Homo sapiens: one gene and its partners. The protein of the gene in region 5 purifies or fractionates together with the protein of the main gene of each other region. This does not show direct contact. Each region holds a gene or a part of one and is shown on either strand. Other genes may lie near its edges.

Region 1 (3,500 bases), on a different chromosome or scaffold from region 5:
TGATTTCCTCCTCATTCCTGAAGAATATTTTCACTGGTTATAGGATTCTGGGTTGACAATTTTTTTTCTTTTAGCCCTTGAACAATACTGTGTGTCTTTCATCTGACGTCCATGGTTTCTGATGCTGTCAATCACATTTTCTCTCCTATAGGTAAGGCATAAAATTTTAATTGATGCTTTCAAGATTTTTGTTTTAAGCTTACACTAGTTTAATTATGATGTATGTTGGCGTGGATTTCTTTGAGTTTATCCTGTTTGGTGTCTGCTCAGCTTCTTGAACCTGTAGGCTTATTATCCAAATCCTGCCAAATTTGGGAGCTTTTAGTCACTATTTCTTGAAGTATGTTTTTAGCCTCACCCTCTTTCTTTCCAGGACTCTGATGACATGAATATTGGATCTTTTGTTATATTCCAGCAGACCCCTGGAGCTCTGTTTACTTTTCTTTTTCACTGTTTTCTCTGCTATTGGGTAAATTTTACTGTTCTGTCTTCCAGTTCACTGATTCTTTCCTCTGTTGTTTTCATTCTGCTGTTGAGCACATCCATTGAGCTTTCTATTTCAGTTATTGTATTTTTCAATTCTAAAATTTCCATTTGGTTCTTTATATCATCTACTTCTTTGCTGAGACTTCATTTTTCATTGGTTTTATGTGTGTTCATAATTGCTTATTGAAGCATTTTTATCATGGCTGCTTTAAAATCACTGTCAGTTAATTCTATCATCTCTGACATCTTGGTTTTGGCATCTGTTAATTGTCTTATTCATTTTGACATTTTCCTGATTCTTGGTATGACAAGGGATTTTCAAATGAAAGTTGGATATTTTTATATTATGTTGTGAGAATCTGGATCTTCTGTTTTAACTTGGCTTCTCTGATACTACTACAAGAAGGGACAGGGTTGGCGGTAGATGGGTATCATCTTGTTACTGGTGGAGGTAGAAGTCATGGTTCCCACTTGGCGTTCATTGATACCCAAGTTGGGTGGGGGAGCTCCTTCTTACTGCTATGTAGGGGTGGGAGGTCTAGCTTCCTACATGGTCTCCACTGGCACTGTGATATATGGGAGTGGTCTTGTTACCAGTGGGCAATGGTGAAAGTCTGGAATCTCCACTAGGCCTGCTCTGACACTGCCCCAGTAGGGAGGGAGTGGTTGTCTTGGCACTGCCAGGTGGGGGTACAAGTCCAGGCTCCTCATATAGTTTTCACTGACACTGCTGCAGGGAGGGCCTTGCAACTGTGGTTGGTGGGGATGAAAGTCCTGGCTCTGTGGTGTTTACCTGGAATAGAGCTATTATTATCTAAAAGTTTTCCTCTTTCTAGGTTGCCTAGTCCTTTCGTTAGAGCAGCTTTTTTTTGGGTGTATGTCTGTTGGTGTACTGGATTGCTGGCTTCTTCAGCTCCAAGTCTAGGGATTATGAAGCAAAAAGAAAGGAACTTACCACTGTGTTGGTGTTGTTTCTTGGGTCCTGAGGTCCCTAGCTGGTCTGCCTTCTTCTCTCCATTTTTCAGTCTTATGCTTGTTTTATATATAATGCCCATGGTTTTTGGTCGTACCTAGCAGGAGGAATAGGGACATCTACTCCATCATCCCAGAAGTGGCAGGCTCCTCAGTTACTTTTTAATTGCCAAATTATCTGTTCCTTTTCATAACATATTTTGAATATGACTTTCACTTGCTACATGACTGCTGGTTTAAATTGTTCTCCTTTACAAATTTTATGTGATTCCTGACAGTTTGATATTTAATTTTAACCATCTTGCTATAGATATTTTTAAACATAGTCGCCCCAAAATCTTTTTTTGCACATAACCCCAAACTGAAAATCTCTTAGAAGACACAATTAGCACATTTTTAAAATCCTCTCTACAAAAGAGTTAGATTGGTGTATACATATGGTTCAGGCATATGTACAGGGTTAAGTAATAATAAATGTTTTCTCATGGAATACTACTGCTACTAGAAAATTAACTGAACATACATGCATTAGATGTGTCATCAATGGTTACAGCAACTCTTCTTCATCGATGCTGTTGTGCATTAAATTATTCCCAAATGGTTGCTGAAATAACTATAGAGGTTTGAGTGAATCATTTTTGTTTTCCAGAGTGCCTTGCATAGCATTAGGAAAGAAATTCTTACTATTTTTATGTTTTTTGGTGCCATAAGGTATGAGAGAATAGTGTCATGTTTGATCTTTCTGGTTACTCTGTTTGAATGACACTTGAACTGGCTGCTGATGTTAACGTGTGTGGTAGGGAAAGCCATTGTTGGACTCATAGAAATGATTTTTAAGTTGGGTTGGGGTATTTTAAAACTGACACGTTTTGGAAAATGTGGGGTCTTGTTTCTATCCTCAAATTACAATATTTTACTAAATTCAAATACTTATCTCCAACTAATTGAGTATCTGAGAGAATGGTCATTTTGAATAAGTGTGTCTTTCAACAAAATTGTTAAATGACTTTTTTTTTTTCTTGGCAGAATCAGAAAACATTTATCTAGAATGAAAGAGAGTAGAGCAAGAATCAAGTGTTGGCACTCTTAGCGTGTGTGTGTGTGTGTGTGTGTGTGTGTGTGGTTTTGAAAATGATAAATTGTCAACAACTTGCTAGAAATGGAACAAATGGAAATGTTGATTAAAAATGGCTGGTAAAACTTATCTGTAAAGTACTTTATCTTTGTGCTGTACATTTGTACTGTGTTAAAGGCTAAGAAGTAATTGTAATAAACTCTTATAGTCTTGCCTTTTAAAAACTGATTGTCATTATCTCAAACTGTGACTCACAGGGTGCTGGTATAGAAATCTACCCTGGGAGTCAGTGCACCCTGAGTGACAATGGGATCCATCACTGCAAGGAAGGGATCCTCATTAAGGTGAGCATCAGCCAAAACACCCACTTTTCAATGGATAGAATGGTTTTACCTACAAATTATGCTTTATTAAATTGTTGGGTTCTATTTTCTGGTTTTGAAAAGCATAAACAGTGTACACATTTTGATAATATCAGTGATTGGAATCTCTTGTGAGAATGCTGTTACCTATAGATCTGCAGAAATGACAGAGGAAAGCTGTGTCACTAAGGGTGCAGACTGTGCTACAACATGGGACTAAACATAGCTTTTTCCTTTTATTTTTAGAATAGTGTGAATAAAGAAGATTTTTAAGGCAGGAAATGTTGAATATGACAGTTCCTAAAACATTTGTTTTCAATGTCACAGGACTTCTTAGATGAACATTATGACATTCCCAAGATATCCATGGTGAATAATATAATACATAATAATGAAGGTTATGGTGTTGTCTTGGTGAAACCTACAATCTTCTCTGACCTGCAAGAAAATGCTGAAGATGGAACTGAAGGTATATTTAGTAATTTTTAATATAAAAACCAGACATAATTTATTTCAGCATTAAATGCTGATTAAGGATCTGAGTCTTCCTCTCTTCCTTAAAAAAGGTTGTTGGGATATGCTTGGGCATGGAGAGAGAGAAGCTT
Region 2 (3,500 bases), on a different chromosome or scaffold from region 5:
TATCCTTCCTATAAGTCGTCTGTTTTCCAGTAAATGTCCTCTCCCCCACCCCATTCTTCCCCTATTAAAATCGTGTAGAGGTTGGGCATGGTGGCTCATGCCTGTAATCCCATCACACTGGGAGGCCAAAGCAGAACTACTTGAGCTCAGGAGTAGGAGACCAGCCTGGGCAACACAGCGAGACTCCATTTCCACACAAAAAAATTAAAAATTAAAAAATTAGCCAGGAGTTGTGGCACATGCCTGTAGATCTAGCTTCTCAGGAGGCTGAGGCAAGAGGACTGCTTGAGCCCAGGAGTTTGACTTCAGTGAGCTATAATTAGGCATTCCACCCTGGGCTACAGAGTGAGAACGTGTCTCAAAAACAAAAAGGAAAAAGTGAGCATGATAGTCACCCAAGTAATGTTCCAACATATTCAAAATTAAAACAATCAAATCAACTGTGGTTTCAAACAAAATGTAGCATATTGTTTAATGTTTTAAAATTGAATTATATTGCTTTTGATTTTTTTTTGAGACAGAGTCTCGCTCTGTTGCCCAAGCTAAAGTGCAGTGGTGCGATCTCGGCTCACTGCAACCTCCGCCTCCTGGGTTCAGGCGATTCTCCTGCCTCATTCAGCCTCTCGAGTAGCTAGGATTACAGGTGTGCACCACCACGCTGGCTAATTTTGTATTTTTAGTAGAGACGGGATTTCACCATGTTGGCCAGGCTGTTCTTGAACTTCTGACCTCAAGTGATCTGGCCACCTCAGCCTCCCAAAGTGCTGGGATTACAGGCGTGAGCCACCATGCCCAGCCATATGTTGATATTTTTAATGTTTGGTTTTACAATAGTACAATAGCTATAACCCTATGAAGTTTACATCTAGTTTTGTGTTTGCATATACACATTTAATAAAAATAATTTTTGCCAGGCATGTTGGCTTGATCTTGTAATCCGAGCACTTTGAAAAGCCAAGGTGGGAGCACGGCTTGACCTCAGGAGTTCAAGAATAACCTGGGTAATATAGTGAGACCTCGTCTCTACAAAAAAATAAATAATTAGCCAGTTGTGGTGGCACGTGCCTATATTCCCAGCTACTTGGGAGGCTGAGGCGGGAGGATCACTTGAACCCAAGAGATCAAGCCTGCAGTGGGCTGTGATCATGCCCCTGCACTCTAGCCTGGGCAACAGAGTGAGAACCTGTGTCAGAAGTAAAATAAATAAATAAATAATTTAACATTGGGACAGCAGAGAAATATTTAGTATCTATACATTACTCAAATTTTTAAAAACTGATTTGAGGAAACAGCATTCATGGGATTTTATGTGGAATTGAATATGGGTGATGAAGAGAGGAAAAAATCTAGGATGACTCCTAGGTTTCTGACCTGAGCAACCTGGTGGATGGCCGTGTTTATTCATTTGAACAGAAAGAGAAAAGAATAGAAATGTAGGCCAGGCACGGTGGCTCATGCCTGCAATCCCAGCACTTTAGAAAGTCAAGGTGGGAGGATCACTTGAGGCCAGGAGTTTGAGACCAGCCTGGGCAATAGCAAGTCCCTATCTCTACAAAATATAAGTTTTGGTTGTGTGTGTGTGTGTGTGTGTGTGTGTGTGTGCGTTTTTCAGAAATGAGGTCTCGCTCTGCCACCCAGGCTGAAGTGTCACAGCTCACCGCAGCCTCGACCTCCCAAGCTCAAGCGATCCTCCCACCTCCCCTCTTGAGTAGCTGGGCCTACAGGCGTGCACCATTATGCCTGGCTAATTTTTAAATTTTTTTGTAGAGATGGGGTCTCCCTAAGTTGTCCAGGCTGGTCTCGAACTCCTGGGCTCAAGGGATCTTCTTGACTCGACCTCCCAAAGTACTAAGATTACAAGCATGAGCCACTCCACCCACTTGATCAAGGATCAAGGATTACTTGAGCCCAGGAGTTCAAGGCTGCAGTGAGCTATCATTGCATCATTGCATTCCGGCCAGGGCGACAGAATGAGAGCTGTCTTTAAAAAAAAAAAAAAAAAAAAAGTCGGATGCAGTGGCTCATGCCTGTAATCCCAACACTTTGGGAGGCCGAGGTGGGTGGATCACCTGAAGTCAGAAGTTCGAGACCAGCCTGACCAACACGGTGAAACCCCGTCTCTACTAAAATACAAAAATTAGCCGGGCATGGTGGCACACGCCTATAGTCCCAGCTACTCAGAGGCTGAGGCAGGAGAATTGCTTGAACCTGGGAGGCGGAGGTTGCAATGAGCGGATATCGTGCCACTGCACTCCAGCCTGGTTGACAGAGCAAGACTCTGTCTCAAAAAAACAAAGGTGGGGAATGGCAAAGGGAAGAGAGATCGAAGAGTTATTTTAAACACACTAATTTTCAGGTGCCACCAAGAAATCTAAGTGGAGATGTCCAGTATAAAGATATTTATCTGCGCTGGGCGCGGTGGCTCAGGCCTGTAATCCCAGCACTTTGGGAGGTCAAGGCGGGCAGATCATGAGGTCAGGAGAGCAACACCATCCTAAGACGGTGAAACCCCATCTCTTCTAAAAATACAAAAAATTTGCCGGGTGTGGTGGCACATGCCGGTGGTCCCAGCTACTCCGGAGGCTGAGAAAGGAGAATCGCTTGAACCCAGGAGGCAAAGGTTGCAGTGAGCCAAGATCGTGCCACCTCACTCCAGCCTGGGCAACAGAGCAAGACTCTGTCTTAAAAAAAAAAAAAAAAAGATATTTAGCTGCAGCCAAAGTGACAGATTTCACCTTAAGATATAATTATGGGAGTCACTGATCTATGCATAAGATTTAAAACCATGGGAATTAAAGACACCCAGGGAGTATATAAGAGTAAGAAAAATAGGTCACCTTGAAGAACACCAATATTTAAGGAGGAGAGAGAAAAAAACAATCAGAAATGGAAGAAATATTGAGAATACTGCTGTTGAGAAATAGCAACCAAAAAAAAGAAAGAAAACCATAACTACCCTTCTGGTGATATCCTAGAAACCAAAGAAAGCAATTGTTGTAAAAACAAAATAACAGCCAAAGGTATCAAATGCAGCTCGGAAAATGAGAACTGAAAAATATTTTTCTATTTAATAACCAGGAAGCCATTTGTGGCCTTATTTATTTATTTATTTATTTTGAGATGAATTCTTGCTCTGTCGCCCAGGCTGCAGTGCAATGTCATGATCTCGGCTCACTGCAACCTCCACCTCTCGGGTTCAAGTGATTCTCCTGCTGAGAATCACTCAGGAGGCTGAGGCCTCCTGAGTAGCTGGGATTACAGGCGCACGCCACCACACCCGGCTAATTTTTGTATTTTTAGTAGAGACAAGGTTTCACCATGTTGGCCAGGCTGGTCTTGAACTCCGGACCTTGTGATCCACCCGCCTTGACCTCCCAAAGTGCTGGGATTACAGGCATGAGCCACCACGCCCAGCCTTGTGGCCTTATTAAGGACAATTTTGGGATGTGTGGGTAAAGAAGCTAAATTAGAAAGTTAGAGGCAAGAATGAATGCAGATGA
Region 3 (2,646 bases), on a different chromosome or scaffold from region 5:
TCCACCTCCCCAGGTCCAAGGGCCATCTCATCGCAGATGGGAGTCTCATCACCACCTGTATGTACCGCAATCTCAAGAAGGGCTGTGGGAGCCGGGCCCGGGCAGAGGACCAACAGGCAAAGACCAGCTTTGGAGCAGGCAGGTTTCCTGGGCATCATCTGTTCCACAGCATTTACTTCTCAGGCCTCTCTCTTTAAATGGAGACAAGGTCTTCCCGTATTGCTCAGGGTGGTCTTGAACCCCTGGGCTCAAGTGATCCTCCCTCTTCAGCCTCCCAAAGCACTGGGATTGCAGGTGTGAGCCACCACACCCAGCCTCTGGGGCATGTCTTTTCCAACGCTTCATCACTTGCTACAATCTGAGATGAGAAAGGGCCTGGAAGGCTGTTTAAGACCCTCAGTGTGAACCCTGGGCTCCATGCTGCCTGTTCCCCTGACATCTGTCCTCAGCCCAAGAGTCCCAGAAGACAGTAGCAGGAGGACAAAGGCAATGACTCCAAATGGATAGGAAATACTTTTATTGCAAAAAGTACTGAAGGTACCCTAAAACCTTAAGCAGGATTCTGGACATGGAAGCCTACAGAATAGACAAAAATAAATATGTCAACCTGCCCGACCCTCTGGGGTGAACTGGATGTGGACACTGGAGGGAGGGCGTCCTTTATTACATACGCGTCTCTGAAGTCATATAAATATAGAATACCTTATAGTAGATCAGCATTAAATACCAGTCACTGTGTTTATATAACTTAATTTGTGCTGTAGACAAAGTTCTGTACATGTAACATGTGGCCATGCCCAGGCATCCCAGCATCTATCCTGAAGTCAGTGTAAAGACATCCTTAAGTGGTGGAGACATGACAGCCCAGAACCCACAGCAGAGGGAAACTGGGGAGAGGAGGGGGCCTGACCCTGGATCCCCCAGCTGGTGTCCACAGGCTAGAGGGACCCATTGCTGCAGAGGCTGGTGCCTGGTTTTCCCCATACTTGGTCTTCTAAACCCAAAGACAGGGTCCTGATGGTGGAGACCTGGGTAGGTCCGGAGGACAGACACAGGAGAGGGCACAATCCCAAGCGCAGCTCTCCTGCACTGGCTCGCACCACAGCCCTCATCTGAGTGGCCGACACAAGCCTGGAGTACGGCAGCTGCCAACCACAGCAAAGCCGCAAAAAAGACTGAGAAAACAGGAACCCAGAGTTCCACAGGGGCAAGGCCTCGCAGACCAGCCAAGCCCGAGATGCCCTGTGCTGGCAGTCATCACAGTCTGGACAGCATGTCCTTCCGTGGGTGCCCAGCTCAGTGCCTGGAACGGTCAGGGATTGAGGGCGTAGCCAACCTTGTATGGCCAAACCCAGCCCTTACGCCCCTGCTGACAAGGGAGACAAGCTGCCCCGCTGAACTCCAACAACCTCTGGGTGGGCTCAGCAGCCCCTAGGAAGTTAAGCGAGAGCTACAGGGCAGGGGGGCTCCCTGAGGGAGTTTGCACAGACCAGGAGGGGCCAAGGGGTAGCCCCAAGGGAGCAGAGGAAGGAGAAGGGCAGGAAAAGGTCCAGGGCACAGGGCAAGCAACAGTGCCAGAGGGTGCCTGGTCACAGGAAGCCCAGCTGCATGTTCCATGCTGCCCACAGGACTCCCAGCCAGGCCCCAGCAGGCCTGGACAGTGCTGGGCCCCCATCCTCGGCCTTCCCAGCACAGCAGGTGCTGGAAGATGACCATGACCCAAGCGAGAAGAGCCGCCATGAACTGTGGTCATACCAGCCAGGGCGTTCTAGGACAAGACTTCCTAACCCGACAGCAATGACATCCACAGTGTATGGACTGGGCTCTTGAGGAGCACGAGGGAGAGGCCAGGCAGCCCTGTCAGGGGTCCTGGGACATATTAAGGCAACCAGCCACGCCATCTGGCCAGCACAAGGGACTTAAGTGCAATCTGCTAAGTGACAGTGCTAAGACTGTCTTCCTGCTGAGAACATCTCTACGAGTTAGTTCACTAGAAAAGGCAATAAACATTTGCTTTAACCTTCTTTAACCAGGAAAATGCAGTCTAAATGCCCTCTTCTCTAAAAAGGAGGCAAGGACAAAAACTCAAGCCAAGGCTACTTTGGGTACTTTGAGGGGAAACTGACCATTTCCAAGAGAAACCCAGGGGCTGCCAAGCTGCGGCATTCACCCTCCTGCAGAAAGCTTTGGCAATGGGACTTCTTAGACTGGACAAATCAAACAAAGCTGACCCTGTAGAGCTCCTTCTTCTTCCCACTTCTTCTAAGGTCAAACTGCAAGCATTTTCAACTTTGGAACCAACCACCAAAGCCACCTCCTGCCCAGGACTTCCTTTAGAAGCAGTGGGACTCCTCACGCGCAGGCCCAGCAAGGGCTTGGGCACCCGCAGCTGTCTGCTTGGCTGGGTGTCAATGATCACCTCCCAGGGCCTCCCGGGAAGGAGAGGGTGAGAGGTGAGGACGCAAGAGCCAGTCAGGGGGTAGGAGCAGGGGGCTATGGCTGAGGAGGCCCAGCATCTGATAGGACCACATCCTCTTCACCCTCCAAGCCCACACCCCTGCTCATGTCCCACTGTTCTGGGTGCAGCCTCTGGAGGGCAGCCCTCTGAGGTGTTTTGATGTAAGCCCCTGGCAGGGGCCAGGAGCT
Region 4 (4,138 bases), on a different chromosome or scaffold from region 5:
AAAAAAAAAAAAAACCATGAGATCCTGTAATATAAGACATATGGAATAGCACAGGGAAATTTAAGATGACTAAGATTTTGTAATTTAGGTATCAATGACAATGGGTAATAAGACTTATAGTGTGGGCTGATGTTAGAAAAAAAATGGTTACGTTTATAGCATTTAAACTTATCAAAGTCAAAATAACAAGGCTGATTATCATCACTTTCTAGGAATTAACTTATTGAGAAATTTGATTGAGAGATTCGAAGGTAGCTGCTAAAACTTCATATCACCATCTACAGAATATCAACATATTACATATAACTAGCATATAATAGCAAGAAGTGTTTGAGGTGATGAATATGGTAATTACCCTGATTTGATAATTATACATTATATACATGTATCAAAATATCACACTGTACCTCATAAATGTAAATATAAAACAATTATTATGTGCCAATTTAAAAAATATCTATTTTGGGGGACAGGGTCTCACTCTGTCACCCAAATTGAAGTGAAAAATAAATTTTTTAAAGAGGGTGAAAGGGGCTGGGCACAGTGGCTCATACCTGTAAGCCCAGATTTTTAGGAGGCTGAGGCAGGCAGATCGCTTGAGTCCAGGAGTTTGAGACCAGTCTGGGCAACATGGCTAAACCCTGTCTCTACTAAAAATACAAAAAAATTAGCCAGGCATGATAGCACAGGCCTGTAGTCCCAGCTACTCAGGGGAGGCTGAGGTGGGAGGACCACCTGAGCCAGGGAAGTCCAGGCTGCAGTGAGCTGAGATGGTGCCACTGCACTCCAGCCTGGACAACAGAGCAAGACCGTGTCTCAACAACAACAACAACAAAAAGCAGGTGCGGTGACTCACGCCTTTAATCCCAGCACTTTGGAAGGCTGAGGCGGGTGGATCACCAGAGGTCAGGCGTTCAGGACCAGCCTGGCCAACATGGTGACCCCATCTCTACTAAAAAATACAAAAAATTACCCAGTCATGGTGGTGGGCGCCTGTAATCCCAGTGACGTGGGCGGCTGAGGCAGGAGAATCGCTTGAACCTGGGAGGCAGAGGTTGCAGTGAGTGGAGATGGAGCCACTGCATTCCAGCCTGGGCAACAGAGAGACTCCGTCTCAAAAAAAAAAAAGGAAAAAAAGGGGGTGGGGGCGGAGAAACCATGTATTTGGCCCTACACAGAAATGTGACCTGGAACTATTATCAACATGACATGACTGTCAGGCCTTTTCTGTTTTACATTTCTGTCAGCACATTTTGAACCCTAGTGGTTTAATTACAAGGTACCTCCTCTGTCCCCTACTTCAAGGCATCAAGCACAGCCACTGAGCTAAAATGCTGCCTCCTGCTACAAGAAAGAGTTGACTGAATATCCATTCGGGTGGCAGACAACAGAAATACTAGTCTGTTACCATGCTTCTCAGTAACTGCTGATACCATCCCACTGTCAGTGGAGTAGGAACGTCATCCCAAAAGGTGGCATGTGGAGTGACCATATTTCCAAAGGAAAAGAGCACAATTCTGTGACGTTGCATGCCTCACGTGCCCCAAACTTGAAAAGCAGATTGTTGACTGGGCAAGGTGGCTCACACCTATAACCCCAGCACTTTGGGATGTCCTGTCGGGAGGATCGCTTGATTTTTTGTTTTTTTTTTTTGTTTTGTTTTTGTTTTTTGTTTTTTTTTTTTTGAGACGGAGTCTCGCTCTGTCGCCCAGGCTGGAGTGCAGTGGCACGATCTCGGCTCACTGCAAGCTCCGCCTCCCGGGTTCACGCCATTCTCCTGCCTCAGCCTCCCGAGCAGCTGGGACTACAGGCGCCCGCCACCACGCCCGGCTAATTTTTTGCATTTTTAGTAGAGACGGGGTTTCACCGTGTTAGCCAGGATGGTCTCGATCTCCTGACCTCGTGATCCGCCCGCCTCGGCCTCCCAAAGTGCTGGGATTACAGGCGTGAGCCACCGCGCCCGGCCAGGGAGGATCGCTTGAGTCCTAGAGTTCAAGACCAGCCTGGGCAATACAGCGAGCCCCCCGCCGCAAAAAAAATTGTTTTAACATTAGCTGGCTGTGATGGGGCAAGCCTGTACTTCCGGCTACTTGGGAGGCTGAGGTGAGAGGATCGCTAGAGCCTGAGAAGTCGAGGCTGCAGTGAGTTGTGATCGCACCACTGCATTCCAGCCTAGGAGAAGGGGCGAGACTGTCTCAAAAAAAAAAGCAGATTATTAGGAAACGGTAGAAATGCCCAGAGGAACTAAAGCGGACCTATGTTTGCTGGCTTTGAATTCACTGCTGGGAACATGTGGAAACTGCTTCAGCAAAGGGGTGTCAGAAAGAATCCCCGGAACAAGTGTCAAAACACCCGTGGTTCTTTGTGCTTGAGTTGGGGGCCCGGCCTAGAGAGCTAGCCCTAAACTGCTGCTACACTAAAAGCTAATAATCGTTCCTGCGCTACCTAAAGGTCAGGGAAGGGATCTCAGACAAACGAGGCGACAACAGAGGGACTGGGGACACAGCCTCAGGATTCCCCAGTTGGGGCGGGGGAGGCAGGAGCGGTCCGGACGAGAAGGTCTGGGGAGGGCGACACTTAGACTGTCGGAGGAAGGCCTGCGGCGGCAGAAGGAAAGACAAGGAAATACACAGTTCTAGAGGCTTCTCTCACTCCAGTCCTCAGGGGTCCGGAAAGCCGGAGGGAGTAGAAGAGGAAGTTCCCAACCCCGTCACAGACGCGCCCGAACGCAGGCCCTCCTTACCCGCCGCTTCCCCTTCCCTCCGGCGCCCGCTCAGGCCCTGCGCGCGCAGTCGCGACCAGCCCCGGCCGGAGAGGGCGGGGGAAACCTGGCGGGGGTGACGAGGCGGGAGTGACTGGGCCGTACAGTTCCCCGAGAACTGGAGGCGAAGCCGGGCGGTGGGAAGGGACTTCGGACGCTTCGCGGGCCCTGGGTTTTCACTGCGCGTGCGCGAGGTTCTTCCGCTCGCGGGAGACTGGGCCGCTGGCGCCTCTCAGTGCCCACTGATGGGGCCCAGGGCTTGGGCTTGCTTCCCCAAGGATCAACAGCTTAGCTGCAAGCCTCTGCTTCTGCCTGCTGGGGCCGGCTGGCTCGCCCTTTCCATTCCGCTTGCACTCTGATTCTTGTGGTGTCCCAAGAAGGCCGCGGATCTCAGTTAAGCAGAGACGAGCCGAACACCTGGCACGGTCCTTCTCTACTGTTCTCTCGAATCGTTTTCTGAGTGCATGACTGAGCCTGGCACTGAAGGGATACTTATTTTGGGGAAGGAAGAACTCAAAAGTCCAGTTTTTTTCACTGTTGACCCTCATGTGTCACATTAGTGGCTTTCAAACTGTTTTGATCCCAGCCTACGGTGAACAAAAATATTTTACATCAAACTCAATACCACATACTTGTGAGTATATATATAGAAGTATATATCTAACATAAAATCTCATTTCTTTATTTTTATTTTTATTTTTTATTTTTTGAGACGGAATTTCGCTCTTGTTGCCCAGGCTAGAATGAATGCAATGGCCGGATCTCGGCTCACCGCAACCTCCGCCTCCTGGGTTCAAGCGATTCTCCTGCCTCAGCCTCTCAAGTAGCTGGGATTGCAGGCATGCGCCACCATGCCCGGCTAATTTTGTATTTTTAGTACAGACTGAGTTTCTCCATGTTGGTCAGGCTGGTCTCAAACTCCCCACCTCAGGTGATCCGCCCGACTCGGCCTCCCAAAGTGTATTTCTTTCTCTTTTTATGAGACAGGGCCTGGCTTTGTCGCCCAGGCTGGAGTGCAGTGGTGCCATCTCGGCTCACTGCAGCCTCGACTTCCTGGGCTCTGGTAGTCCTCCCACCTCAGCCTCCTGAGTAGCTGGGACTACAGGCCTGTGCCACCACCGCCAGGCTAATTTTTTGTATTTTTAGTAGAGACAAGATTTCGCCATGTTGACCAGGCTGGTCTCCAACTCCTGGGCTCGAGTGATCCGCCCGCCTCGGCCTCCCAAAGTGCTGGGAGGTGTGAGCCACTGTGCCTGGCCTGAAACAAAATCTTCACAAAACTATGTTTACACTTACGACCCGCAGTGCACTAAATTTTTATTTCTTCTTTTCTACTTCATTACCAAAAACTGCTAACAGGGACCTATTGTCAGCAAA
Region 5 (4,284 bases):
CAACAGCTAAGCCACCTCTGAACTCTTCATTCCCTGTGAAGGAAGCGCTGGGGGCCCTGGAGGCTAGGCGCCTGGCTCTCAGGGAAAGTGACTGCCTAACGCAACACAATAGGCACATTACAGCCCTTGCCTTAGAGGGAGATTAGGGTATCTGCCTAGCACTAGAAAGAAGAAGAGGAAAAAATCCCTGGGGAGCAAGTTAGTCTCTCTGAGTAATGCAGAGGTTTAACTGAAACAATGAAACAAAACAAAACAAAACAAAACAAAACAAAACAAAACAAAACCCTCCAGTATAGTAAACAGAGCCAGCAGACCAAGGCATCTTTACCAGCTAGACAAATCAGAGCTCAAAGGAAAATACTATTTCTTTGCTATTATTAGACTGTCTCTCTCCATTTCCGGATTTGGAGGACTGTAGAGGGGCCACAGGAGGGTGTTCCCTCCCTCGCCTCCCAAATAAAAGCCCTTTGCTATAATTTAATCCATCCCGGTAAACCTGCCGCTTATCTTACCCTAAGCAGAAAGAAATGACCAAAGAGAGGGAGGGAGCTGTAAATATACCTAAAACGAATAAGCTCAAATTCTCAAATTCCTGGTAGGGGGTTGGAGGGAGAATTCTTCTGAACCATATTTGTAGGATTTAACGGTCCCTCCTTCCCCGACGGATCAGGAGTGGATGGATTCTCCAGGATTCATGCCACATTAGCAGAAGCATCCATAACCACAGTATCTGACTTATTAAGAAAGTCATGGCATTTTTTTGAATGACCCAGTATGGTTCACCCAGCATTATATACCATTCAAGGGCCCCGAAGGCCTGAGCCCAGAGTAAGGCATGTAAACATCTTCGTTTGATTTTATTTTCTCATGAGTTTTTTTTTGATTAAAGAATTGGGATGCTTTTTAGAAAGCTATATATCCTGCCTCCTTCCTGTGTACACAATAGGAAACTGAGGCTCAAAGGCACTGACTCCCATGCAGTAATCCTCTCACTAGCACGGCCAGGGCGTCTCAAAGAGCAGGTCTGCGGGAGGATCTGAGGGATGATTTTTTAAGAGTGTCTTCCTGAAGAGGAACATCAGCCCCCAACCCCTGAGAAGCTTACTCCCCAGACACCATCTGTCAGGGCACTCAAAGTTTAGCCTACGACCTTCCAGACGCAGAGGCCGGAGGCAGAGGCTGGAGCTCAGAGGGTCACCTGCTCCCACCGCGGAGATGCCCAGCTGGGCGCTGCCCGGCCTCCCCCGCCGCCCCCGACGGGCCGCGTCCGCTGCCAGGGCGGCCCAGCCCCTCACCCAGGGGCGGCCGCCGCCAGAGCCACCCCCTCCCCGTCCAGGCCCGCAGCCCTCTGGGCAGGCCTTTCTGGGGCTGCCGCACCGTGCCACGGATGCCTTGCTACGTGACCTTGGGGCCGGCAGGGCGGGTCGCCGCCAGGTGTCTGTGCCTCAGTGTCTCCGTTCTGCGAAATGGGAGAGCCGCGTCAGCGCCGCGCCCGGGCCGGGGAAGGCTCCGCGGGGCCGAGCTCTGCGGAAAACGTGCCGGCGGCTACCCCGACGGACGCAGCGCGGGCCCCGCAGGGAGCGAGCGCGCCTCCGGGCGCCCCACCTCGGGGCCGCGTGTGTGCCGGGCCGGGCGTGAGAGCAGCCTCCCTCGCACGGACGGCGGCGAGGCCCGTAGCCCTCCCCCACCGCCCGGGTCAAGACGCGCGGGCCCCCTCCAGGGCGCCCCCACCCCCCGCGCCAACGTCGTAGCGTTTCTGCCCCTTACCGAGATCCCAGGCCGGGCCGCCGAGCCCGGGACACGCAGGCCGTCCCCGGGGCCCCGAGGCCGCGCGTCCGTGCGCGCGCGGGCCGCCCTCACAGGAGCCGGGGCCGCCTCGGCCATGGCCCTGCGCTGTCCGGCCCGGGCCCCCGGAGTCGCCGCCGCTACTGCCGCCGCCGCTACTGCGCGCGGCCCCACGCAGGCCCGGCCGCCCGGCGCTCTCCGCAGGCGGCGCCGGCCCAGCCCTGTCTTCCCCGCCGGGGCTCGCGCGCGGCCGTCGGGCCCCGGCCTGCTCGGGGCGCGCGGGGCGAGCGGGCGCGGGGTCGCGGAGCCCGAGCGGCGGCGTCGGAGCTGGGCGCGCGGCTGTGCGGGCGGCCCGGCCGGCTGCGTCCCGGCGGCGAGCTGGGCCCCGGCCCTCAACGGCGGCCCCCGGCCCGCGCGCCGCCCCTCTGCGGCCGCGGCTGGGACCCCAGCTCCGGCCCCGGCCCCGGCTGCGAGCTGCGCTGCCGTCCCGGCGCCTCTTTAGCAGGGGAGCTGCACAGCAGCTGCCATGTTGCTACAAACTGCATCCTGGGAGGCATGTCCCTCTCAGGCCGTTTAAAGAGAAACACTCCGAGGCTCGTCGGAGGCTGCCGGAACCCAGACAGCTCCATCTACAGCCGGTAGGAGCGAACAGTGTCGAGCGAGCCGCCCGGCGGCGACGGACACGCCCTGAGCCCGGGCCAGCCCGTCGTGGAGCCCGGGCCGAACCGCCGGGGCCTCCCACCCTCCAGGACCCTCCGGCCTCTCACCTGGGGTCCTCGCCTGCCCAGGCACCCTCGGGCGAGGCCGGGAGGCGCGCGGGCGGAGGCGCAGTCGGAGCGCGCAGCCCAGGCGACGTGCTGGGGTCTGGAGGCGGCTTGATTGGCTCCGACAGCCTTCCTCCCGCCGATCCCCTGCGCCTCTCACACCCAGAACCCGGGGTCGTTCCCTTTCAAAACCTGCGCTCACAAAGGGATCTAAGAAACCCGTCACACCAGAGAAAGCCCGGAGTTCATGTGACCAGCTCAGTGCAGCCCGGGTTCCAGGGACGCGGGCTGTGCTTCCAAGGGGAGCCAGGGGGTTGGGTGCTTTTGTGAAATGCCCGAGTGTTGTTTTCGACATGAAAGGACCGAATTCCTAGAATCAGACCCTGCTGGGGCTGGAAGTGGCCAGACGGGTCATTTAGGAGGAAACTGAGGCCGAGTGGGCAGCGACTTGTTTACCCTCAGTCACAGTATGAATGAATGCTCTTTGTAACCATGAGAAGTCCCAAAAGAAATGCAGGAGCTTAGAGTTGAGAACTCCCCTTCCTGGACAGGTCCACTTAAACATGTATTAATTGAATACCTACGAGGTGGCGAGAACTGGGGATGAATTGAAAAGGAAAAAAAAAGAAGAAACTATAGGCAGGCGTCCTGGTTACTAGCGATGAAGCCCAACTGGAACTAACTTAAGTGAGGGAAGACGGCGGGGGGGAGCAGAGGACATTGTGTTTACCTAATGGAACCCCAGGAGTGGAGCTGGTCTTGGAAGGCAACAGGACTCAGTATGCTGGCAGCTCAGATAATGGAAAGTTATGGCCAGACGTGGTGGCTCATGCCTGTAATCCCAGCACTTTGGGAGGCTGAGGTGGGCAGATCACGAGGTCAAGAGATCGAGACCAACCTGGCTAACGTGATGAAACCCTGTCTCTACTAAAAATACCAAAATTAGCTGGACGTGGTGGCGCGGCCCTGTAGTCCCAGCTACTTGGGAGGCTGAGGCAGGAGAATCTCTTGAACCCGGGAGGCAGAGGTTGCAGTGAGCCGAGATCGCCCCACTGCACTCCAGCCTAGGGGACAGATCAAGACTCCGTCTCAAAAAACAAAAAAAAGGAAAGTTACAGATAGAGGTAAGGCCAGAGCTATGCATCCTGTCCCCTCCCTTCCCGGAGGCTAGAGTTCTCACCCAGGTCTTTATGCATTAACTAACATGTGTGCATTCGTAAACAATGCACACTACTGGTTTTGGTATTTTTACATTTTATGTGAATGATATTATCCAGTCCCTATCCTGTTGCAACTTGCTTTTTTCCATGGGTCATTTTGTTTTTGAGATACAGACATGTTTAAACAAGAATATCTGGTTCATTCATTTTACCCACAATATAGTATTTCATTGAATACATAAACTACAGTTTACGTTCCATTCCCCCTAGAGGAATGAGAACAAACCTGCTGCCAGCGACATCTGCATGCATGTCTCATTGTGCACTGCTAAAGTGCGTCTCTAGAGACGCCTAGACATGGGACTCTGGATGGCAAGAGCACCTTCATCTTTCCCCGGCTTCCCGAACTGCTCACTGAAGGGATGGTGCCTACTTACACACCCACTATCGTGTGATTTTCTCTTTCCCCATCCTGGCTCATACTTACTGATAATGGACTCAGAACGTTTGCCGACATGATGACTGTGAAATGGTAGCTCATTATTTTAATTTGTATTTGTATTTCCCTGATTAAT
Region 6 (3,014 bases), on a different chromosome or scaffold from region 5:
TCGGCCCCACCCTGCCTCACATTCCCACCCCACGTGGGCCCCACTGGGGCACCACAGCCCTGCCCTATTCCTGGACACCGAGCCGTTTATGGTGAAGCCCCCACACGCACAGAGGGCAGGCAGCGCCCCCTCCGTCAGATCTCAGGGCTGCCGGCCCTCAAGCACCCAGCAGGAACCCCAGGTTCAAGGGGATCCACGCGGAGCAAAGGGGAGGGTCCTGCCCCGTCCTGAGCCAGATCCAGTGTCACCGTCTCCCCCCGGGTGTCAAAAGCGTGACCGTGTCAGGAAAGGCATCTGAGAAAAGCGCCATCTGCCACTGGCTGGACTGACTGTGCACACGCGTTCTCCCTCAGTCTTGATTTTTGGACTTCCAAATCTAGAGCATCATAATGTTTGACACGAAATCATGTCATATGAAATGCTTAAATCCTTTTTCCACTTAATATCATACACATTTCTCAGGGGTAACCTTATGCAGGCATCACAGGGGCCATTTCCAGTGACTGCCGGCCGCGTCTGCCGGCCCTTTTTGGTCTATCCGGACAGAAGCAGTTACAGCTCCATGCATTTCCAGTGAATCTCAAACTATACCAGTAACGTCTCTTACAAGACAGAGGAGACTTGCTGGGAATGGTAGTACTGGCCTGGCTCACTCTGCAGCGACTCTGCTGGGCTCAGGCTTGCAGATCTCCGGGTCTGTGCAGCCTCCATGCAAGGGGCCACGTGGAGCCGGGAAACCTTCCCGGGGAGAGCAGAGGCCGGTGCCCTTGTGAAGCCCCGATGGCCAACATGTGCCTAGCCTCCTGTCAGGAGCTTCCTTTTTTTTTTTTTTTTTTTTTTTTGAGACGGAGTTTCGCCTTTGTTGCCCACACTGGAGTACAATGGCACGATCTTGGCTCCACCTCCCAGGTTCATACCACAACCTCCGCCTCCCAGGTTCAAGCGATTCTCCTGCCTCAGCCTCCCGAGTAGATGGGATTACAGGCATGCACCACCACACCCAGCTAATTTTGCATTTTTAGTAGAGATGGGGTTTCTCCATGTTGGTCAGGTTGGTCTCGAACTCCCGACCTTAGGTGATCCACCCACCTCAGCCTCCCAAATTGCTAGGATTACAGGCGTGAGCCACCACGCCCGACTGGGAGCTTCCATTTTAAAGAACACCATCATCTCTCCCTTCACAGGTTATGGGAAGACCGGCAAACAGGAGACTTTTTGTTGTTACTTTTTGATTCTGTTGCAATATTTTTGTTACTTTTTCTGATTTTGTGTGTTTCGGTGCCATAAATGGTTGTTGAGAACTGATGTGGCGGGTACCAGCTAGGGACAGGCAGGACAGGCGATGTGGGTTTCAGGCGTACACAGCCCCGTGGGAAAGAGACAGGGAAACCAGCACAATTCACTCTGACCCCAACCTTGGCCTGCAGTGCGAGGCGCCCAGTCACAAATGTGTACACACAGTGATTTGGGGTCCTTTTTCCTAAAACAGCTTCTTTATCAGGACTTTGGAATTCTGGGTGAGATAGAAACACTGAAAACAGGGCGGAAGTTTTTTCTTCTGGCTTCTTAGTCCACGGAGGGCTCAGCGTGGAGAGGATATGCCGTGGCATTCTCCCTGGGAGACCACACATGTTCCCGACAGCTCAGACCCCAGACCGCATGTGCTCCTGACAGCTCAGACCCCAGACCGCGCGTGCTCCTGACAGCTCAGACCCCAGACCGCAGGTGCTCCCGACAGCTCAGACCCCAGACCGCGGGTGCTCCTGACAGCTCAGACCCCAGACCGCGCGTGCTCCCGACAGCTCAGACCCCAGACCGCGGGTGCTCCTGACAGCTCAGACCCCAGACCGCGCGTGCTCCCGACAGCTCAGACCCCAGACCGCGGGTGCTCCTGACAGCTCAGACCCCAGACCACGCGTGCTCCCGACAGCTCAGACCCCAGACCACGGTGCTCCTGACAGCTCAGAACTCAGACCGCGGGTGCTCCTGACAGCTCAGACCCCAGACCGCGCGTGCTCCTGACAGCTCAGACCCCAGACCACCGTGCTCATGACAGCTCCTGTCCGCATGCTATCTTAAACTCTCAGCCCCCACTGGGCCCTGTGCTGCTACCTGAAAGCTGCAGGTGAGATGCGAGGCACGAGGCCACGCACGCTCTGAGGAAGGAGCTGTCAGGCGCTCCTGAAACAAGAGGACATCGGAGGGAGGCAGGGACAGGCCTGCGTCCCATGGTGCACAGCCTGTGGCCCCTCAGACGGGCCTGTGTGGCCTGGTGGTCACCTACAGGGCATTTGGAAGTGGGGTACTGGTGTGGCCAGGGAGAAACAGCCTGGGGGTCCCCGGTGCCTCTGGGCTCCGGGCCAAGATCTGAACCAGTCTGTTGAGTTTTCCATCACGTCCCAGATCCGGGGCTGTCTGCACAGCTTCCCACCCCGGCTGGGACTGCATCTCTCGAGGCCCTGCTCCGACCTCACTGTGGCCTCTCCACCGTGCATACCACCCTATAATGCACCGCTTTCATTGCAGTGCGGACCCCTCTGGACGTCGGGACTGAATCAACCTGGGAAGTAGAAGTCGTGGCTCACATCCGCCCAGCCGCAGACACAGGCGTGCTGTTTGCGCTCTGGGCCCCCGACCTCCGTGCCGTGCCTCTCTCTGTGGCACTGGTAGACTATCACTCCACGAAGAAACTCAAGAAGCAGGTAGGGCCTCCGCCACCCAGGGCGTCCTGACCGGCTCGACCCACGGGTACGTGGGCTGCACTCCCTGGCAGGGGACGAAGGGGGCCCGCGGTGGGATCCCCAGGGACCCCCAAAGCCTCTGACCAGAGGTCTGATGAGCCAAGCCCGGCGTGGGCCACGCTTCGGGCTGCGGGGGTTGTTTGGACACCAGGTCACCGCCACACAGCTGAGGGGGCCGGCGCCTGCGAGCCACACTCGGCTCACAGTGTGGGAGCTTTTCCCCTGTTCGGTTGGGCAGATGGTGGCTCACAGCAATCTGAATTAGTCTCTGGT
Region 7 (3,088 bases), on a different chromosome or scaffold from region 5:
AATGCTTGGCTATGAAAGTGTTAAAGTTTGCATGGTACACAGAGGATTTTCTGATTTCTCAGTGTCCCCAACTGTCTTCAGGAATATGTTAAGTAGTTCCTGACTCTGATTTTCCTTGCAAGATTAAACTAAACAGCTGATCAGGAACCCTTAGGGAATCTGCAGCAGCTGGACCTCCCCAAGAAAAGAGAGAGAGAGAAAGAATTTCCAAGCATAAAAACAATGCCTATGGGGTCTCGGAGACCCGTCCTACCTCTGCCCCTGATCAGTGACTTAGTTCCACTTTGCTTTGACACAGCCTTAGCCTGGTGTAATATTACATTACAGTAGGTTTCTTGCTTTTGGAATTCACTGCTTTAGCATCAGGTAAAATTCCACAGAATCAATTCCAATTTTAGCGTACTCATTTTTATGTGTACAGTGAGATTTGGAGTTTAAAGAAGGTTTTTATTTTGTTTTATAAGAAAAAGCTTAATTTTTAAAACGTCTTGGTATCAGTATGGTTGGACTGGGGGAAGGGAAGAAAGGGGTGACCAGTTGTTAATACAAATGTAAAGGATAGCTTTAACAAGTCATCAGGATAAAGCCAACAGCTGTGGAGGAAAAGGAAATGGAATGGGTGGAGGGGAAAATGAGGCCTTAGTAAAAGGAGATCCAAGCATAGAATGTGTTCTTTGTTATTAGAGTCAACACTCAGTAATCCTAGGAAAGGGGGCCTTCAGGAGGAGCATGGATAAATGGAGTCCACAGATAATCCACAGCCCCGTTTAAACTGTTAGTTCTAACTCTAACTGTCTCCCTCATAAAAACCTTTGTTTTTAACTAGAACCATAATGATTCCTTGGCATGCTTTATGCCTACCTTTTGGACAATAATGAACAAAGAAATGTATGCTGGGGTGAGCAAGAAAAAAGGGCTATAAAGAACTTGGAAACAGAAATCTGTATCTTCATCATTGTTTCTCTAGCACCCAGCAGAGTGCCTGGCCAGGAGATAATAGAGTTAACAAATGTTTGATGAATTTAATTGAAAGAAGAGAAAGAATATTAGATACTACCTGGTCTGGGATTCTGAGCCATAGATAATCAAGAATCCATAAATGTTGATTGGATAAATATATATGAAATAGGTGGGAATTGATTTTCTGAGTTCCAAATTTGTGGGAAGAAGTGAGGAAGAAAGAACATTTGAATTTCATCCACATTTGGCCAAAAGTTGATGTACTTTCTACCATCTTTAAACAATTTAATAATCCAGGCACTGGGGGAAAAACCAAAAAAAAAGCTTCCAGTCTCTTGTTTCCAAAGGTCTTACTTTCTCAGTGTTTGTGGTTTAGCTTTGTATATTTGTTAAGCAAATATATATTCTCATCACCTCTTCACAAAGAGGAAAATAAGACTGTCTTCTCGATCCTTATGTATAATGCTAGTGTGTAGCATTGTAGAAGGAAGTAAATTTTCTTGAATTGTTTCTACTGCATGAATGCTGTCTCCAACTGATATGCATGTTCTCTGAAGGCAAGCGTTGGTCTGCAGCTCCTTTTATAATCCCCCCTTAATCTTTAATATTGGTCTGGGCACATAGTATGTAGTAAGTACTTATTCACAAAGTTATGTTGTATCTAGGAAGTACAATGCCTTATTTACACTTACTTTTTTTCTCTTACAGATTTTGATAAACCTGATTTCAAGAGAAGCATAGTATGCCTGGAAGATCTGCAGATTGGGACAGTTCTTACAGGCAAAGTTGAGAATGCCACTCTCTTTGGAATTTTTGTGGATATAGGAGTGGGGAAATCTGGGCTGATTCCCATACGAAATGTAACAGAAGCAAAACTTTCAAAAACAAAGAAGAGAAGAAGCCTTGGACTGGGCCCCGGAGAAAGAGTGGAAGTCCAAGTACTCAACATTGACATCCCCCGATCTAGGATTACTCTGGACCTCATTCGGGTGTTATGAGTATCCCACGAAGGCCAGACGCTGATTTTATTTTCTCATTTCCACAGATTGACAAGGATAAGTCAGTTGTTTGTAAACTCTAGGTAGCAGATGAGAAATAATTCACTTAATATCAGAAATATTTTCCAAACACTTTCCTTTATTTTTTCTTCTGAATAAATAGAAAACCAACAGTTTGATTTCCTTTTCCCTTAAAGGAAACAACTAATACACATTCTTATATGGCTTTATGTAGTAATAGTTTTCTGACTAAAATTTTGTTTTTTATTTTTTGTAATTTATCTTTAACTCCTTTTGCATTTTGTATAACAGATTGCTTAACTTCTACTTGCCAACATCTGCCTTGCTGGACTTGTATGGGATTGTCTTCTTGATTTGAATTGTACCGTCTTTGTTGACACAGTAGGGCTGGGCAGTGTTTAATCCTTCCATTTTATAGATTTTTTTTTAATCAGGCCTTTTGGACTTCATTCATAATTTTGCAATAATCTCTTTTCCCTTGTCATGCAAGCCAAAAATATACCAGTAAAACAGATTCTGACGTGTTTGTAGTTATCAAATGAATGGCTCGAAACACTTCTCAAAAGGATATACGTATTGACCCCAACAATAAATGTTTGTGGCTAGTGACTTGTTTTTTGCTATGTTGATTCAGTGAATGACCTAGAAGTCAGTCTTGATGAAAAAAGATATGGTTTATGCAACCTTTGGAGAAGAGGGAAGCCTTTGAAAATTTGAAGAATGGTTTTGTTTGATTTAGCATAGAAGAGTGTGTCCTTTCTTAAATCAGAATTAAACTTCAAATGGGGATAGAAATGGCCGTTTTAAAGATCAAATATAGATCAGGTGTGAAGGGACAAGAAAAACAAGTATATAAAGGAAGTGACTCTTATTCCATTTTTATTTAGTGGAGATGGTAAGGATTAGCATGACCATTCAGGATCAAAATAAAGCCCACAGTGGACTGGTATCCTGTTCATTCTGACTACTGCTGCTGCTGTTGATTTGCCTGATGAAGATATTTGTATGACTGAATGAGTGTCTGGTTTTCTCCATGCGTGATAAGTAGGGGATAGTTACTAAAGACGACCAGTCTTGTTCATTTGCCTAGGAAACACCCATTGTCCTGG

Evidence for each region.
Region 1: the proteins of ZNF777 (region 5) and SHCBP1 purify together in Homo sapiens (affinity purification with mass spectrometry; one large-scale study listed by BioGRID and IntAct). This does not show direct contact.
Region 2: the proteins of ZNF777 (region 5) and SEC24A purify together in Homo sapiens (affinity purification with mass spectrometry; one large-scale study listed by BioGRID and IntAct). This does not show direct contact.
Region 3: the proteins of ZNF777 (region 5) and KLHL21 purify together in Homo sapiens (affinity purification with mass spectrometry; one large-scale study listed by BioGRID and IntAct). This does not show direct contact.
Region 4: the proteins of ZNF777 (region 5) and IPP purify together in Homo sapiens (affinity purification with mass spectrometry; one large-scale study listed by BioGRID and IntAct). This does not show direct contact.
Region 6: the proteins of ZNF777 (region 5) and GAS6 purify together in Homo sapiens (affinity purification with mass spectrometry; one large-scale study listed by BioGRID and IntAct). This does not show direct contact.
Region 7: the proteins of ZNF777 (region 5) and SRBD1 purify together in Homo sapiens (affinity purification with mass spectrometry; one large-scale study listed by BioGRID and IntAct). This does not show direct contact.

What each region holds. Positions count from the first base shown.
Region 1 is NC_000016.10:46,583,380-46,586,879, reverse strand, and holds part of SHCBP1 (SHC SH2 domain-binding protein 1), read left to right. Parts: intron 1-74; coding exon of another isoform or gene 75-122; exon of another isoform or gene 123-151; intron 152-2,790; coding exon 2,791-2,877; exon of another isoform or gene 2,878-2,878; intron 2,879-3,222; coding exon 3,223-3,364; intron 3,365-3,500. UniProt on the Homo sapiens protein: May play a role in signaling pathways governing cellular proliferation, cell growth and differentiation. May be a component of a novel signaling pathway downstream of Shc. Acts as a positive regulator of FGF signaling in neural progenitor cells.
Region 2 is NC_000005.10:134,655,285-134,658,784, reverse strand, and holds part of SEC24A (protein transport protein Sec24A), read right to left. Parts: intron 1-3,500. UniProt on the Homo sapiens protein: Component of the coat protein complex II (COPII) which promotes the formation of transport vesicles from the endoplasmic reticulum (ER).
Region 3 is NC_000001.11:6,590,224-6,592,869, forward strand, and holds the end of KLHL21 (kelch-like protein 21), read right to left. Parts: 3' UTR 501-2,646; downstream 1-500. UniProt on the Homo sapiens protein: Substrate-specific adapter of a BCR (BTB-CUL3-RBX1) E3 ubiquitin-protein ligase complex required for efficient chromosome alignment and cytokinesis.
Region 4 is NC_000001.11:45,747,854-45,751,991, forward strand, and holds the start of IPP (actin-binding protein IPP), read right to left. Parts: upstream 2,801-4,138; 5' UTR 2,744-2,800; exon of another isoform or gene 2,653-2,743; intron 1-2,652. UniProt on the Homo sapiens protein: May play a role in organizing the actin cytoskeleton.
Region 5 is NC_000007.14:149,458,263-149,462,546, forward strand, and holds the start of ZNF777 (zinc finger protein 777), read right to left. Parts: upstream 2,801-4,284; 5' UTR 2,553-2,800; intron 2,327-2,552; exon of another isoform or gene 1,885-2,326; coding exon of another isoform or gene 1,768-1,884; intron 1-1,767. UniProt on the Homo sapiens protein: May be involved in transcriptional repression. Inhibits cell proliferation through CDKN1A/p21 induction by down-regulation of NIBAN1/FAM129A at low cell density.
Region 6 is NC_000013.11:113,823,063-113,826,076, reverse strand, and holds part of GAS6 (growth arrest-specific protein 6 precursor), read left to right. Parts: intron 1-2,526; coding exon 2,527-2,702; intron 2,703-3,014. UniProt on the Homo sapiens protein: Ligand for tyrosine-protein kinase receptors AXL, TYRO3 and MER whose signaling is implicated in cell growth and survival, cell adhesion and cell migration.
Region 7 is NC_000002.12:45,388,180-45,391,267, reverse strand, and holds the end of SRBD1 (S1 RNA-binding domain-containing protein 1), read left to right. Parts: intron 1-1,668; coding exon 1,669-1,958; 3' UTR 1,959-2,588; downstream 2,589-3,088.